Regions from separate parts of the Homo sapiens genome. Here region 1 is linked to region 2. The links come from fine-mapping of genetic effects on gene expression. A gene starts in region 2. The other region holds a variant in brackets. All regions are shown on one strand. Distances are between the middles of the regions.

Region 1 (5,373 bases), 810 kb after region 2:
GAGACACTTGCCCAAGAAGCCCTCTTTTCCTCTGCAGGATGTTTACATTTTGCCTCAAAGTGGTAACGACTGTAGAGGACTTAGATTTGTCAGCAGTCTTATTGGAGGAGTGAGGTGTGTGCATCTGAAACACAAAGGAGATGCAGTGGTGTGGGAGGCCATCGAAGAGGGAGAGGCACTGCCAGGCAAGTACAGATTGAAGGGTGGCAGATCAGTGTGGGCTGCAGCAGTCAGGGCAGTTTGTATGGACCAGGTGCTCAACTCTCCAGGCAGGATCAGAGGGGCAACCTGGGGAGGAGCGGTAACCCCCGGGGTGCATGAACAACAGAAGGGCATAGGGGGAATGACTGCTTCCAAGTGTGGTGTGGGGGACGAGTGTGGCTGAGATGGCTTGAGTGCAGGGCATGTGTTGAGGAGTGGGAAGGAAGGTACCTGATCTTGGTATTTCAGAACTAGAGAAAAAACCAAGTTTTTCCCTGGGCCAAGTCTTATTTCTTTTTATTGCATGTCAGGGTTACTGAGCCCCTAAAAAAGCTGAATGAGAGCAGTTTCTACAGGAGAAAATGGCTTGAGGAAGTAAATAGGCATCTGAATAACAGGGGAAAGTGTCCATGCTTCTGTCTACTTATTTGTTCAAAAGCTTTTGACAGGATCTTGAATCTCAAAGGCTTTTAAATAGAATTGAGTCACCATGAGAGAGGGAGGCTGCGTTATGGTAGGGAGTGGCAGTACAGAAATGAAGCAGAGGGTCAGCCCTTCTGTGACTGCAGAAGGATGATGCGCGGGCTCCCTCAGGACCAGAGTGAGAACCATGAGTTTGTGGCTCTGTGAAGGAGAAGCATTGGAAGTGTTGAGCTTTGAAAAGAAAAAGAGTAAAACAGCAAAGCCTTGGGAGTCAGTTGAACTGGTCAGTTGCTGAGAGGCTGGCAGCGGAGCGTTGCCGTTGGTGGATGTGCCACAGGCAGAGTTTGCTCCTTGGCTGGCAGGTCAGGGACTCATCACTCAGCCCAGCCATAGATACTCTGAGTCCAAAGCCGGCCCAAATCACCTTGGGCCACTCTAAAGAGAGAAATAAATGCCGGTTGTCACTTTCTGATAGGCTGATAATGACTTTATGCTACAAAAACATAGGTGAAGCGGATTGAAAATATAACCATTATTTGGGGATTGATTAATGCCTTTTCCTTACTCATGCAGGGGTTATGAGACTGTCAGTAAATCTAAGACATGTTAAATAATGTAGAAAACTATTTGTAGTATAAGCTGATTTTTTTTTTTTTTTTTGAGACAGAGTCTGGCTCTGTAGCCCAGGCAGGAGTGCAGTGGCGCGATCTTGGCTCACTGCAAGCTCTGCCTCCCGGGTTCACGCCATTCTCCTGCCTCAGCGTCCCGAGTAGCTGGGACTACAGGTGCCCGCCACGTCACCCGGCTAACTTTTTATATTTTTAGTAGAGATGGGGTTTCACCGCGTTAGCCAGGATGGTCTCGATCTCCTGACCTCGTGATCTGCCTGCCTCAGCCTCCCAAAGTGCTGGGATTACAGGCGTGAGCCACTGTGCCTGGCCTAAGCTGATTGTTTAGTAAAAATTATTACACAAATAACTTGAGGAAATAAGGCTAAATAGTGCTTATCAGACAAGATGAAATTAGGAATTTTTTTTGGTTTTGTTTTTTTAATTTTTAATAAAGCTATTTTGCCAAATGGGAAAGGTAATTATTTGCTTGGAAAGATACCCCATTTTGGAAATACAGTCCTTGAAACAAAAACTTGTTTGTTTTCTAATGTCTTATTTGATTAAAATTTTGTCAGCTTTTGGGGAGACTTTAAAACACATTCCCTCAGGTAATGTTAAATTGCAGGATCTTCTTTGGAAGTTAGAGGTAACTGACATGCAAATAAATAAACTAAAGTCATGTCGTTACCTCTTATTATGATTTTAGTTCATTTTCTTCTGGATATTTAGAAAATATATCAAATTGGAGAAGCCTTAGAATGTTATTTTATAAAGCAGTGTTCCCTGAGAAGTCAAATTTCTTAATTTTTCCTCCAATGTCATCAAAATATGCCTTAGCTGGGCATGATAGTATGTGTCTGTAGTCCCAGCTACTTAGGAGGCTGAGGCAGGCAAATTGGTTCATGCCAGAAGTTTGAGACCAGCCTGGGCAACATAGCAAGATCCCATTTCTATTTTTTAAAAAAAGTCTTAAAACAAATAATATTTCTTTTATCAGAGAAAGAGTGATAAGCCATTGGCTTGCTCCAGATCATTCACTCACCACCTTGCCAGGTGACTCACTGAATGAGGTACACCAAAGTGGCAGTGAGCCGCTGGGAGGGCGAGATGCCTCAGGGTTCTGGGGTTCCCAGATTGTGTTTTGTTGTCTGGCAGGACACTGGATAAACCCAGAGTTGAATTCCCCTCCCTGTTTATTATATATATATATATATATTTTTTTTTAAATTTTATATATATATATATATATATATTTATATATTTCCAGGCACTGGGTCTTGCTGTGTCACCCAGGCTGGAATCAGTGGTGTAATCATAGTTCACTGCAGCCTCAAACTCCTGGACTTAAGTGATCCTCCTGCCTCAGCCTCCTGAATAGCTAGGACTATAGGCATGTGCCACCACACCAGGCACATGTTTTTTTCTTTTATGTCTTTTTGTTGAGATAAGGTCTTACTTGAATGTCATCTAGGCTGGAGTGCAGTGGTGCAGACATGGCTCACTGTAGCCTCTACCTCTTGGGCTTAAGCGATCCTCCTGCCTCAGCCACTTGAGTAGCTGGGACTACAG[G/A]TGCATGCCACCATACCTGGCTAAAATTTTTTTTTTTTTTTTTAAGAAAGACAGGGTCCCACTATGTTGCCCAGGCTGGTCTTGAACACCTGCTCTTGAGCAATTCTCTTTGCTCAGCCTCCCAAAGTGCTAGAAGTATAGGTGTGAGCCACCATGCCCAGCCTGCCCTCTGTAATGACTGTTCCAGCCCACAGTCCTCTGTCATTCTCTCTTCAGAAAGGCTACAGCGTTGATTGAGGTTACAGAAGTTTAGGGCATGGCTTTTCCCCCTGTCTCAAAATAGTGACAACAAAAAACAATTTATGATCTAGTTAAGGTGGATTCTGCAGATGATGGCTCTCCTCCAGGAACCCAATTTTTGTCTCACCCTCATAGCATTGTTTTGTCTTTGCATTTGGACTGTCTCTTACCCTCAAGCTCATAATATTCTGACTGTTGAGAACTTTTGACCCTGACAACTCCTTTTCACTATGTAGAAAACTGGCTGGGTGTGGTGGCTCATGCCTGTAATCCCAGCACTTTGGGAGGCCAAGGTAGGAGGGTCAGTTGACCCTGGGAGTTTGAAAACAGCCTGGACAACGTGGTGAAACCTTGTCTCTACAAATAAGTTTTTAAAAATTAGCCAGGCATGGTGGCAAGCGCCTGTGGTCCAAGCTGCTCAGGAGGCTGAGGTGGGAGGATCACTTAAGCCTGGGCAGTTGAGGCTGCAGTGAGCTGTGATTGTGCCACTATACTCCATCCTGTACAACAGAGTAAGACTCTGTCTCCAAAAAAAAAAAAAAAAAAGACTAAAAAAGCTATTACTTATTTGACTGCACTGTTCTTCCCTACCACCACCATCCTCTTCCTGCTGTTTCTTCCTCTCAACGAACTGAGGAGCAAAGGTTTGGAATAGTCACTTTTCAGCAGGCAATATAGCAGTACTGATTCAAATGTAAAATGTAAATCGACTTTGATCTGGAAAGCTCACTTCTAGGAGTATCTTCCATAGATGTTCACAGAAGTATGCAAAGGTAAACATAAAGGGCTGTTCAGAGTAGCACTGAAACCCAAACTAGGAACCAATTCAAAAAACTGGAAAACTGGAGAACCTTCCTAATAGAATAGGGTTCAAGTGTCACAGAGGATATCTGTTCTGACGTGGTAAAATGTTCAAGAGCTGCTTAAGTATTTACGAGTCTGTATTTTGTTAAGTGAAAGAAAGCTATACTGCACACGGTAGTGTCATAGCATTTTGCCAGTACTTCTATTACATTTTCTTCATTTCTCACTTAGTTGGCTGAAGTTCATCCTCTACTGGTTTATTCAAGAAGGTTCATGGAGCTGTATTCCCAAAGTTTTTATGAAAATATTTGTGGTTTTATAAATGAATAACAGCAGAGTGTAGAATTCTTGGGTCCCTCTTTCTGAGGACATTTTAATCACGATTTATTTCACTGTTGGTGATGTGCCTCTTTGCCAAATGTTCCCCTTCCATTTGTTTCAACCAGGAGAGCATTAGTCCCACATTTTTGCTTGACTCATTTCCACAAATCTGCTGTGAGTAGCCCAGGCTCGTTTCTGCTCATCTGGATTTCTGAAGAGAATTTCAGGTTTTCTTGCAGAGGATTTTAGCTTCCTGTCTGAAGTGAAGACATAGTGAGAGCAAGTTTTGGTGAGCACATACAGGCTGAGCACTCCAATTCTATATCTCCCCACCAGGTTACCAACATCAAGAAGACACTCAAAGCCACCGCATCCTCCTCGGCTCAGGAGATGGAGCAGCAGCTGGCTGAACGGGAGTGTCCCCCTCACGCTGAGCAGAGGCAGCCCACCAAGAAGATGTCCAAAGTGAAAGGTCTGGTCTCCAGCCGCCACTAGGGCCGGCTGGGGCAGCTGGCACTCACCAGGCCTGGGTCAGGTGGGGAGGGGACACCAAGGGCCCATTTCCTCCCCTCTCTACCTGCAGTGAGTTCCAGACCTGCCCGTCCCCTCACCAGCGCCTCCCCACCCTGTTGGTACTGTTCCAGAAAAACTGTTACTCCCCCTCACCCACTCCCTCCTTCCCCAGTTGTTCCCTTCAGACTCAGGGGCTCCACCAATGCCATCCCAAAACAGGGTCAGACACTGCCCAGCTTCCCTCCAGGAGGTTCTTGTCTCTGTGTAAGGGCTTGTCTCCCTCCCAGTTTTTCTTTTGCTCCACGTCATTTTGTCAGGCTGGTTATAAGCCGGAGGCAGCTTTAACCAGCCCCCAGGGATGATTGTGAAGGAGGCCCCTCCCCTTGTGAGGAGGGGGCACTCCTCTCCAGCCCCTGGTACCACAGTCCTCACGATGGTGCAGTGATTTCTAGCCAGGCGTCAAGATGCGCTGCTTTCCCTCTCCTGCCTCATCCCTTGTTGGCAGCTCCAGTTCAGGCCGTGGAGGGACGTGATGCTGGGCTGTGTTTACTAAACCCACGGGTTTTCAGCCTCTTAAGCCCAGCTCCGATCTCCAATTAGTTGAGAGCGCTGGGTTGACTAACCTCTGGTATCTGAGCACAGACAGAGGGTGCTGTGGGTCTGCTGGGTGGCAGAAATGGTTCCTTCCGGC
Region 2 (5,373 bases):
ATGGCACAATCAGGGGCAATGTGGACACACACACTCCTACCCCATCTCTAGGGGACATTTAGCAATATCTGGAGACATTTTGGGTTGTCCTGGGGTAGGGGGGAGTAAAGACTGGGTAAAGACCAGGGATCTGGTAAACTTCCTACAATACACAGGATGACCCGCCACAACAAAGAATTACTCAGCCCAAAAATGTCAACAGGGCTGAGGTTGAAAAACACTGATTTAAACCAGGTTGAGGCCCTCGGCCGAAGCCCATTGGTACCTGAAAATCCAACTTTGCAGAGATTAATGCCTTAGGAGTTCCTGAGCTGTCTGCTAGATCTCAACAGGGTTCCCGGCCTCGGTTTCCAGTCTCTCTGATTCTAAATGGAGTCCCCTCAAGGGTTCCATTGCTCTTGGCTTCAGGAAATTACCAGCTTCATACAGATTCACTTGCTCCCAGAGCCTCCTTAGGCCAAGGTCAACCAAACACAACCCAATACTCTTGAGCTGAGCTTGCCTTCACTTCTGATCCTTCCTGCCTTTGTTTTCTTCAATCTTCTCGCTCAGGGACCTTTTTTTTTTTTTTGAGACGAGTCTCACTCTGTCGTCAGGCTGGAGTGCAGTGGCACAATCTCGGCTCACCACAACCTCCGCCTCACAGGTTCAAGTGATTCTCCTGCCTCAGCCTCCTGAGTACCTGGGACTACAGGCGTGCACCACCATGCCCAGCTAATTTTTGTATTTTTAGTAGAGACAGGTTTTCACCATGTTGGTTGGCCAGGATGGTCTCAATCTCTTGACCTCATGATCTGCCCGCCTCAGCCTCCCAAAGTGCTGGGATTATAGGCGTGAGCCACCGCACCAGGCCACTGGGGGACTTTTTAATTCATTATTTCAAAGCCTGTATAATTATCTGACTCCCTATTGTTTTCTGGGATCATGAAAATAATGAGCCCCAAACTGGAATTTAGTCCTTCCGATGCCCCCAGCCAGCTGTGTGACCCTGGGAAAGTAACTTAATTTCGCTAAACCTCAGTGTTCTGAGGAAAGGTCATCATTAAGGTATTTTTAGGCTCTAGAAGCCCTAAACTATGTCCTGTCATTTCAGAGTTCATGTTGGGTCTGGCTTTGTGTGGCCCAAAGCCCCCCATTTTTTTTTAAGACAGAGTCTCGCTCTGTCGCCCAGGCTGGAGTGCAGTGGCACGATCTCGGCTCACTGAAAGCTCCACCTCCAAGGTTCACGCCATTCTCCTGCCGAGTAGCTGGGACTACAGGCACCCACCACCACGCCCGGCTAATTTTTTGTATTTTTAGTAGAGACGGGGTTTCACCATGTCAGCCAGGATGGTCTCAATCTCCTGACCTCGTGATCTGCCCGCCTCAGCCTCCCAAAGTGCTGGGATTACAGGCGTGACCGAAGCCCTTTTTATCTGCATAGGTCTGCTCTAAACCTTCCGCTGGGGCAGGAGCTCCTGCGCTTGCCAGTCCCACACTCACCCACCTGTGACACACTGGCGATGAAAGCAGTCTCCTCAGGTGAACACATTTTATGTTGCAGTCACAGTATGAGCTTCAGATTGTCTTTTAAAAATACTTTTCCTTCTTCCATCCTAAAACAAAAATCACATTTAATGAGCACATTAAATTAATTAATCTAGAGAAAGATTCAGTCACCTGTTTAACCCAACCAATTGGGGTTTGGGAGATAGTCTGTGGTTGCCATTGCCATGAGTTTGAGACAAATGTTAGTTTTCTGAACAGCTGTTATGTTCTCAGGGAAAATTATCTGCCAAATGCAAAGGTTCTTATAAAAGTCAAGTCAACCCCCAAACTCCCCTCCCACAGTGCGGGAGGGCAGGCTTTGGGGGAAGGGGTAAGCTACTCTGAGATGGTAGCAGGCTCTGGGCCATGGTAAAGCCTTCGAAGAAGCTCCAAATCTTCAGGAAGCTGACCTGAAGATGAATGCGTGGGGAACATGGATTTTTGAGGTGTAGGAGTAGGGGGTATGTGGAAGCCAGTGACAGAGCTGAGCGTCACATCCAGGGTATCTTAGAGCAAAACAGGTAGCTCACATGGACCCAGGAACACGCCAGCAGAGAGGTGTCTGAAGGCAGCGCTCAGGTCGCAGAAGCATGAGGATCTGGCTGTCACCAGCCCCGTAGCCAGGGCTGTGAGGACCAGGGCAGCCGCTGTCCCCTGCCTAGCCTGGCAGCCTGGGATGAAGGAGGACACCAGGCTGGTGTCTGCAGAGAAGACTGTCCCTTGAAGCCCTGCCATAGGAGCCACCCTGGCTTTTATGACCTCACAGGAGGTGTGGGTCACTGTTCTCTGTGGGGCCTGGGTCCAGCTGGAGGCCCAAGCCAGGCTCCTAGGGCAGAGGGCAAACGGCCCCTCCAGGAGGGAGCCGGGAGATTACGCAGCTCCATGTAGGTCCACGTTTAGGTTGGGAGGATCTACCATGAAGAAGGTCAAGAAGAAAAGGTCAGAGGCCAGACGCCACCGAGACTCCACCTCCCAGCATGCTAGCTCCAATTCCACCTCTCAGCAGCCTAGCCCTGAATCCACACCACAGCAGCCTAGTCCTGAATCCACACCACAGCAGCCTAGCCCTGAATCCACACCACAGCATTCCAGCCTTGAAACCACCTCCCGGCAGCCAGCATTCCAAGCCCTTCCAGCACCCGAAATCCGCCGCTCCTCTTGCTGCCTTTTATCTCCAGATGCTAACGTGAAGGCAGCCCCTCAATCCAGGAAAGCAGGTGGGCTGTCTTCTAGCTTCAGCAGTTCCAGCCTTCCTGCTGATGGAGTTCTGGGTCATCCCAAAGGCTGGTTCTTGTAGGATAGTGATGCATGGTTAACGTGTATCCTGGAGCTGTGCTGTAGAGTGGGAAGGTTTTTGTTTTTGTTTCTACCCAAGAGACCAGGATTCCTGGGTTTTGTCATTTCTCATCATCCTGAGTCTCACTGAAGACAGCCACACATACATATAAACATTTAACTTGGTTCCATAGTAATACTTGCTCACTAGGAATCAGCAGTGCCATGCAACTGCTAAAAAATAAAAACCAAGGATGCATTTATAGAAGTATATGGTTTAGAATAAGGGAGGTGATGATACTGCTTTATTCTGTCCTCATCAAGCTATCCTTTTGGGCTGTAAAAGATGCCTGACAAACTAGTCCAAGGAAGATAGTCTGGGTTGATGGAGGATGAGAAGGATCAGGGAGACCATTTAGTGTATGACAGTCAATTGAAGGAATTGGAGGATGTCTGTCTGTCAAGTGGAAGATGTGAATAGACTTGTTCCTTATTGTCCTCAGAGATCTAAGGGTCTGATGTGGTTTGGCTGTGTCCCCACCCAAATCTCTTCTTGAATTCCCAGGTGTTGTAGGAAGGACCCAGTGGGAAGTGATTGAATCACGGGGGAGGGTCTTTTCCGTGGTGTTCTCGTGATAGTGAATAAGTTTCATGAGATCTAATGGTTTTAAAAAAGGGAGTTTCCCTGCACAAACTCTCTTCTCTTGTCTGCCGCCATGTGAGATGTGCCTTTCACCTTCCACCATGATTGTGAGGCCTCCCCAGCCACGTGGAACTGTAAGTTCCACAAACCTCTTTCTTTTGTAAATTGCCTAGTCTCAGATATGTCTTTATCAGCAGTGTGAAAACAGACAAATACAGGCCCATGGATAGGATAGCCAGACAAAATACAAGACTCTCAGTTAAATTTTAATTTTAGTAAACAACAAATAATATTTTTAGTATGTGTGTCCCCAGTATTGCATGGGCATCCTATATTTTTATTTGCTAAATTAGCAATCTTACCCATGGAAGACATTAGTGACAGAAAGCCTTCGGCTCAACATAAAAAACTTCCCAACAATTAGCTCTGTCTGAAAATGGAATGGCTGTCAGGAAAAGTGGTTCCCTGTCTTCTTGGGAGCCAAACAGTGTCTGTATAAGCATTGGATTGTGTAGAGGGAATTCAAGTGGAGTTCAGGAGGTGGGCTGGTTTATACTACTAACAATAATGGTGATAGCAAACTAACATTATCACTAAGCATTTACTGTGTACCTAGCATTCAGATCAGGTGTCTTAATTTTCACACGTGATAATCCTATAAAAGTTCTTCCATATTATCTCCATTTTATAGATGGGGAAACTGAGGCTCATAGGAGTCAAACAGGTTGCTCCTGAGCAGACGCTGGTAGCCCTGAGAAGGGAAACCCACTCTATTCTGACTCCAGAACCCTCACTTTAAACCACAGCACTGACCTTTCCATTCCAAGAGGCCTAGGAGTCTCCACAAGAGGAAGAACATCTCTGTCCGAGCATCTCCTGGATCTGCCATGAGCCAGTGCCCACGACTCCATAGCCTTGAACAGGCCACACTCCCTGGGCCACAGTTTACCCCCCGGGATTGTGTGGGCATAAAATAAATAAGTGATGGAGATGAGAGTGCTAAATATAAGGCATGCCATGCCAATGATCCTTCCATGGCCAGGAATCAAACCTTTCTTGACATATGATATTGATTTTGAGCACCATACTATATGTTGTAAAGATTGTGATCATCAGCCAGTGAGAGAAACATTTCTGGGTTATGATCTTCAGAACTGGCATCTTCAGTACTGGTAGAAAGCAAGACTTTCCATTCCCAAGTCTTTTAATGAACACATGTGACTCATACTCAGAGAAGAATTTGGCCCATTGAACAGGCAAAGCAAGAAAGCAAGAAATGGTGGTGGCTCGCCAGTGGTTACAGCAGACACCCTATACTTCTTCCAAAGGAATTCTCTGCGTAGAAAGGAATGTTGGAGATGAAGGATGAGGGCCTGCAAGTAAAGCGTGCCATTTTCTAAAATCCAAGCCTTTTTGTGTGCAGAAATATTGTAGCTCAAGAAAATGCCAGTCTTCCACTAGGATGGGTATAATCAGAAGGATGGACAATAACAAGTGTTGGTGAGGATGTAGAGAAGCTGGAATCCTCATACACTGTAGGCGGGAATGTAAAATGGTGCAGCTGCTGTGGAAACAGTCTGGTGGTTCCTCAGAGGAACATGAAGTTACCTTATGACCCAGCAATTCCACTTCTCAGTATACATCCAAGAGAATTCGAAGCATCTTATTAAGCATATTAGAAGCACACCAAAACTTGTACACAAATGCTCAAAGCAGCAGCATTTGTAATAGCCAAAAAGTGGGAACAACCCAAATGTCCATCAGCTGATGAATGGATAAACAAAATGTGGTATGAAATACCACAGTACAATGAGTATGGTGAAATACTATTTGGCAATAAAAAGAGATAGTGTCCTGATACATGGTACAGCCTGGATGAACCTTATAGACACTTGGCTAAGTGAAAGAATCCAGTCTCCCAGAAACCC

What was found. PIP is the estimated chance that this variant, and not a neighbour inherited with it, causes the effect. A credible set is the group of variants that fine-mapping cannot tell apart.
Region 1: its variant is the best candidate, but not a certain one, in a credible set for the expression of SPATA3 in nucleus accumbens (GTEx, PIP 0.77).

What each region holds. Positions count from the first base shown.
Region 1 is chr2:231,802,982-231,808,354 of GRCh38, forward strand. It overlaps COPS7B (COP9 signalosome subunit 7B), which reads left to right. Exons shown (of 7, transcript NM_022730.4): 7 at 4,506-5,373. The coding sequence ends at 4,664. Among named protein-coding and RNA genes, the nearest start is that of COPS7B, 19 kb to the left of the region's middle. The variant G/A (reference allele first, on the strand shown) is at 2,805.
Region 2 is chr2:230,993,791-230,999,163 of GRCh38, forward strand. SPATA3 (spermatogenesis associated 3) reads left to right here and starts at 2,331. Exons shown (of 5, transcript NM_139073.5): 1 at 2,331-2,744. The coding sequence starts at 2,444. SPATA3-AS1 (SPATA3 antisense RNA 1) reads right to left here and starts at 2,242. Exons shown (of 6, transcript NR_033879.1): 1 at 2,058-2,242; 2 at 1,487-1,595. RefSeq lists an enhancer at 1,842-2,375.